2 separate regions of the Homo sapiens genome follow, and region 2 is linked to region 1. The links come from fine-mapping of genetic effects on gene expression. A gene starts in region 1. The other region holds a variant in brackets. All regions are shown on one strand. Distances are between the middles of the regions.

Region 1 (2,915 bases):
TTTCCCCCCTCCACTCTTGGTTGCAGACAGCATGGCTGCTTTACAGCCATCAGAAGAAACACTGCTCATGGTGATGGTCAGCTATCCTTCAACCTGTTCAAGCCAGAAGCCTGAAAACTGAGCATGCTGGATTCTCTTCTCCCTTCTACCTACCTCACTCCCTCAGTGATCTCAGGTCTCACGGCTTCAAACACTATCTGAGTGCTGCTGGAGTCCAGCTTTGTATATGCAGGCCAGACCTCCCCCTGACCTTCAGCTATCCTACAACTGCTGCCTTCACTTCATCTCCTCTTAGCTGTCTAGAGGACATCTCGAATGTCACATGTTCCAAATCAAGCCACTGGCATGCATTCATCTCCTTCCACCTTCTCTCCTTCCCCATCTTGGTTAATGGCAAGTCTATTCTTCCAACTACTCAGAACAAAAATTTGAACTCATCTTGACTCTTCTCTTCCTCTCACATTAGTCATTAATTCATCAGCAAATCCTATAGGTTCTTCCTTAAAGTATATCCACAAGCTGACCCCTGTCACCACCGATGCCACTTAGTGCAAGCCAAGAACCTCTTGGTTGGTCTCCCTGCTCCTGCTTTTTGCCCCCCACTGATTAGTCTCAACCCAGCAGCCAGAATGATCCAGTTAAAACCCAAGTCAGATTGTGTCTCTCCTCTAAGGGCTCCCCTCTCACTCAGAGGAAAAGCCAAAGTTCCTTCAATGCAACCAGGGGGTGTCCTGCATGGTCCTCCTGCCCCCCGCCCCCTTGCCTCTCTTATTCCACTTCCCATCAGGCTCCACCCTGCTCTCTTTGCTTCAGCCATGCCGGCTGTTCCTCAGACATGCCAGCATACTCTTGCCTTGGAACCTTCACATTTATCATTCTGTCTGCCCCGAACACTCAACCTCAAATAGCTGTGCAGCCCTCTCCTTTACACAAATGGTAACTCTTCCATGAAACCTTTCTCCACCACTCAATGTCCATTTCCAAGCCCAGCCCATGCTCCCCAGCCCCATCCCTGCTCTGCTTTTTTGCCTTCATCCTCATCACTATCTGACCCAGTGGATAGTTTTAATTGTATCTGTCACTAGAATGCAAGCTCCATGAGACACACATTTTTGTCTGTGTTATTCATTGCTCTACTTCCAGTTCCCAGAACAATTTTGGCACATAGCATGTGTTCATTAATTATGTGTTGGTTAAATGAAGGAAGCTTTATGAGGGAAAGAGCATGCCACTCCTCTTCCAGCGTCCCCCTTGGTGGCCAGGGCAGAGCAGGCATTCAGCTGCTCTTGTGGGAGAAGAAGGGACTTGCAAGATCATCTCCCTTAGCTCCCTCATTTTCAGGAGGCCAGGGACAGTGGTCCCCAGGAAGGGAAGGAGAGTCCAACCTAGTTTGCCTGATCCCCCATGGGAGGCTGAGGTTGCAAACAGACAGCTGCAGCTCCTTGCAGCTATGCCACACACACAGCCTTTCTGAATCAGAGGGTATTAGTCTTTCCTTCTGAACTCTTGGGATATTCCTGTTTTGATTTGGCTCTAGCAGTGACCACACCGAGTTGTGCAAAGCCTGGGAACAGTGAGGGCATTAGGACCAGGAGTGACGCGCACGCTTGGCTCTGGGTTGTGTCTGGCAGAGGGCTCTCGGCTGAGTGGAGCTATGTGTGAAAGGAAACCAGGCACTGCCTGCCGGCTTTACATCTGTTGATCTGACCTGACTGGAAGCGTCCAAAGAGGGACGGCTGTCAGCCCTGCTTGACTGAGAACCCACCAGCTCATCCCAGACACCTCATAGCAACCTATTTATACAAAGGGGGAAAGAAACACCTGAGCAGAATGGAATCATTATTTTTTTCCCAAGGAGAAAACCGGGGTAAAGGGAGGGAAGCAATTCAATTTGAAGTCCCTGTGAATGGGCTTTCAGAAGGCAATTAAAGAAATCCACTCAGAGAGGACTTGGGGTGAAACTTGGGTCCTGTGGTTTTCTGATTGTAAGTGGAAGCAGGTCTTGCACACGCTGTTGGCAAATGTCAGGACCAGGTTAAGTGACTGGCAGAAAAACTTCCAGGTGGAACAAGCAACCCAGGTTCTGCTGCAAGCTTGAAGGAGCCTGGAGCGGGAGAAAGCTAACTTGAACATGACCTGTTGCATTTGGCAAGTTCTAGCAACATGCTCCTAAGGAAGCGATACAGGCACAGACCATGCAGACTCCAGTTCCTCCTGCTGCTCCTGATGCTGGGATGCGTCCTGATGATGGTGGCGATGTTGCACCCTCCCCACCACACCCTGCACCAGACTGTCACAGCCCAAGCCAGCAAGCACAGCCCTGAAGCCAGGTACCGCCTGGACTTTGGGGAATCCCAGGATTGGGTACTGGAAGCTGAGGATGAGGGTGAAGAGTACAGCCCTCTGGAGGGCCTGCCACCCTTTATCTCACTGCGGGAGGATCAGCTGCTGGTGGCCGTGGCCTTACCCCAGGCCAGAAGGAACCAGAGCCAGGGCAGGAGAGGTGGGAGCTACCGCCTCATCAAGCAGCCAAGGAGGCAGGATAAGGAAGCCCCAAAGAGGGACTGGGGGGCTGATGAGGACGGGGAGGTGTCTGAAGAAGAGGAGTTGACCCCGTTCAGCCTGGACCCACGTGGCCTCCAGGAGGCACTCAGTGCCCGCATCCCCCTCCAGAGGGCTCTGCCCGAGGTGCGGCACCCACTGTAAGTAAGGCCCTTGTTTTCCCTTCCCTGATCCCAGGGCATGATCGGGTGGTAGCAAACTCGGGAATGCAAACTTTCCGTAGCCTGCCTCTCCTGACTTAGAGCAAGTGCTTTTCAAGATGCAGTACCTGGGCCAGCAGCGTCAGCAGCCCCTGGGCACTGGTGGGTTCTCAGAAATGCAGATTCTCAGACCCCATCCCAGACCTGCCAAAC
Region 2 (2,915 bases), 64 kb before region 1:
GGATGAGTTCGTGTCAAGGGTGTGGCTAGCATAGTGGGTGTGTAATGCGACTGGTGTAATTCTGGAGTGGGAATTTCATATATGAATAAATATTTATTCCAAACTCAATTTTCAAATACTCCCATTCTGTAGAGTGAGTGAGTACACAAGGAGTTCTAAGTATCAAAGTTAGGGTTAAGTTCTGAGGATGGAGGGCAGTGGTATGATTCAGGAAAATGGTATAACCACTAGCTTTGGGACTAGACATTGCTGAGGGACTATAATATGAAAAATAGTTCAAGACAGCAATACCTGGACACTGTTACAACTTTCCTGGAAGGCAGTTTGGCAATGTGTATTAAAGTCATTAACAATAATCACATCTTTTAACTCAATAATTTCACTTTATTGGAATCTAGAACAAGGAAATAATCCTAATGAGGTTCCCTACATCATACCTACCCCGGTCTCTTTGCTTCCACTTCTCTGTGATGCTAAGTTGAGCTGTTCTAGGCTAATTTGACAGCACATGTTACCACAGTAGACTGAAGACGAACAGTAAGAGGGCCTCAGGAAGGTGATAGGAAGAAAATCCATTTCTTATTTGAATCCACATTTTGTTTTCTTGGGAAAACATGATTGTTTGCTGTGATGAAGTGTGCTTTCCATCAGGTAGCTCAGAGGAACCTGGCTGGAACTCTTATCACTGGAAAGGCTGAACTAGACTGTGAACATTCTCTTCTGCAGGATTACAAGACCAGAACCCTCCCAACCTCACTTTGGGATCTTTGATTCCTGGGCCATAGCAACTTCTATTAATATCTGACAAATCTGAGGCAGCAGGGTCTGGAAGACACAAGAAGAGACTGAGGGCTGGGTACGTGTAACAGACAGGATGCCTTTCTTTTCCAAGCCACCTCCCCAGTCATGCTGCTTGATGGCTCCAGGGGCTTTCCATTGTCTTCTGTGCAGCTTCCTCACATCTTAAATGGAATATTTATGTGGCCAGATAGTTTCCTACCTCACCCTCTCTGTTTTTCCTCAACTTCCTGGAAAAGTGTGGGAAGTTCTTGCCACTTACTTTAGGTCCATATACAACATTGCAGTTTATCACAAGCTTCAAGGAGATTTGGAGCTTTCGAGTCTCTCCTTCCATGTCACTTTCTATTCCCTGCCTGGGATTCCCTCCAGTAGGATGACATAACATTAGAGATTGGCATTGACTGGGGTGAGTGTTGAATTAAAGACACACAGGTAGACACATCTGGGAGACCAAGAAACCTTAGCTCAGGAGACACAAAGAATGAAAAAGAACTCTTGTTGACTCAAGAAGGAGGAACTCTTAACACATT[A/G]GGAAGGGCATCTTTCCCCACCAGTTCCCAAAGAAGAAGGTATGTGGAAGACACTGGACGTCTGTGCACTGGACAGAGCCTCCAAAGCAGCCCACTCACCCTCCGTACAGCATTCTCCAGAGTCATCTATGTGGTAAAGCAGCCAGCATTTAGGCCATCACAAAGCTGTGCTGGTCAGGACTGCACACCCCCACAAAGGTCGCAGGCTTCTGCTGGAAAGTGACAGGCTTCCTTCCTTCCCTGCCCTGGCCAGCTTCCCATCTGCCACAGAACCCACAACCTGGGATATACACAACATCCCCAGGATTTCCCCCTAGGATGTTCTACCCCACAGATTTAACACATATATATCCTCTGAAGGACTGCCAGTGAGTGCTGAAAAATAGGGTTTGAAGAAATGCATTGTGGAGCTGCAATAAATTGCCTCCACAATTGGAGACTGATTCAGGAAAAGAGAAGACACTCAGAAAAGAACTAGTGTAAATTAATATAAGTGGAGGACAGTGTCCTCTTCAGAAGCCGTCAGAAGGATGTAGGGTGTAGCCTTACCAATTTAGCAACTTTTAGTTGGAAAGAATAAAGTGTGTGAAAGTGCCTGAGTAGTGTCTGGCACATCATAGGTGCTCAATAAATGCTAGCACTTTGGATCTCTTATTCTAGTCCAAAATGCATCTGAGGTGTAAATTATTTTGGGCTTGTCTGATAGGATCTTCTTTTGTTATAATGAACATAAATGTATTTCCCTGCAGCTTCCTCTTATTATATCTATTTCTGGAGCTTTGACAGAATAAACCTTATCTCCTTTCACCATGACACACTTTAAAATATTTGAAGGCAGAAGTTTTGTTTCCCAAATGTTCTCTTCAAGACAAAATTCCTCAAGGCCTTCAACCATTCTGCTTATGACCTGCTTTTGAGGGCTTCATCAGCTTATTGACTCCTGAATACACTTGTGTTTGTCACTGTTCTCCTGAAAGGTGACCATGAATTGGCCACTATCCTGGAGGAAAGGGAGAGTTAAACAGCATAGACAAAGCAGGCCTACCACATTTTCTCATCGTCATTCATGCAAGCTGGTATCAAATTAACTTCCTTGTCTAGTTTTTCAGAAACAATGTTACTATGATAATTTGCGCTATCTTACTATCTATGAAAATCTCTGCAGATTTTTAAACTATTTTTTTGCTATCCATAAGTGGAGATTGCATATTGTTCACCAAAAGCTGCTCTCCCTTCTTCCATAGTAGTTGGATACATGGCTGGCCAGCTAGAAATTACATTTCCCAGCCTTCCTTGCAGCCAGATGTGGTCATATGACTACACTCTTGCTGGTTGAACATAAGTGAAAATGACACATGAAATTTCAAGTTTAGTCCTTTAAATATAGCCTGTGTACTCCTCCACGTGCTTTTCCTTTTTCAAAGGGTATAACCTGAACAGGCCTCTAACCAGGCTCCAAACACACAGATGAAGACAATATACTAGGGGTTGGTAGAACCACAAGATAAAGGAGATTAAAGCTCTGACTGGTCACTGGAGTGGAGCATTGGCCAACCAGGATGTTCCACACTGAGATTTGTATTA

What was found. PIP is the estimated chance that this variant, and not a neighbour inherited with it, causes the effect.
Region 2: its variant is fine-mapped to the expression of GALNT15 in spleen (GTEx, PIP 0.97).

Annotation. Positions count from the first base shown.
Region 1 is chr3:16,172,989-16,175,903 of GRCh38, forward strand. GALNT15 (polypeptide N-acetylgalactosaminyltransferase 15) reads left to right here and starts at 1,692. Exons shown (of 10, transcript NM_054110.5): 1 at 1,692-2,702. The coding sequence starts at 2,164.
Region 2 is chr3:16,108,595-16,111,509 of GRCh38, forward strand. No RefSeq gene overlaps it. Among named protein-coding and RNA genes, the nearest start is that of GALNT15, 65 kb to the right of the region's middle. The variant A/G (reference allele first, on the strand shown) is at 1,332.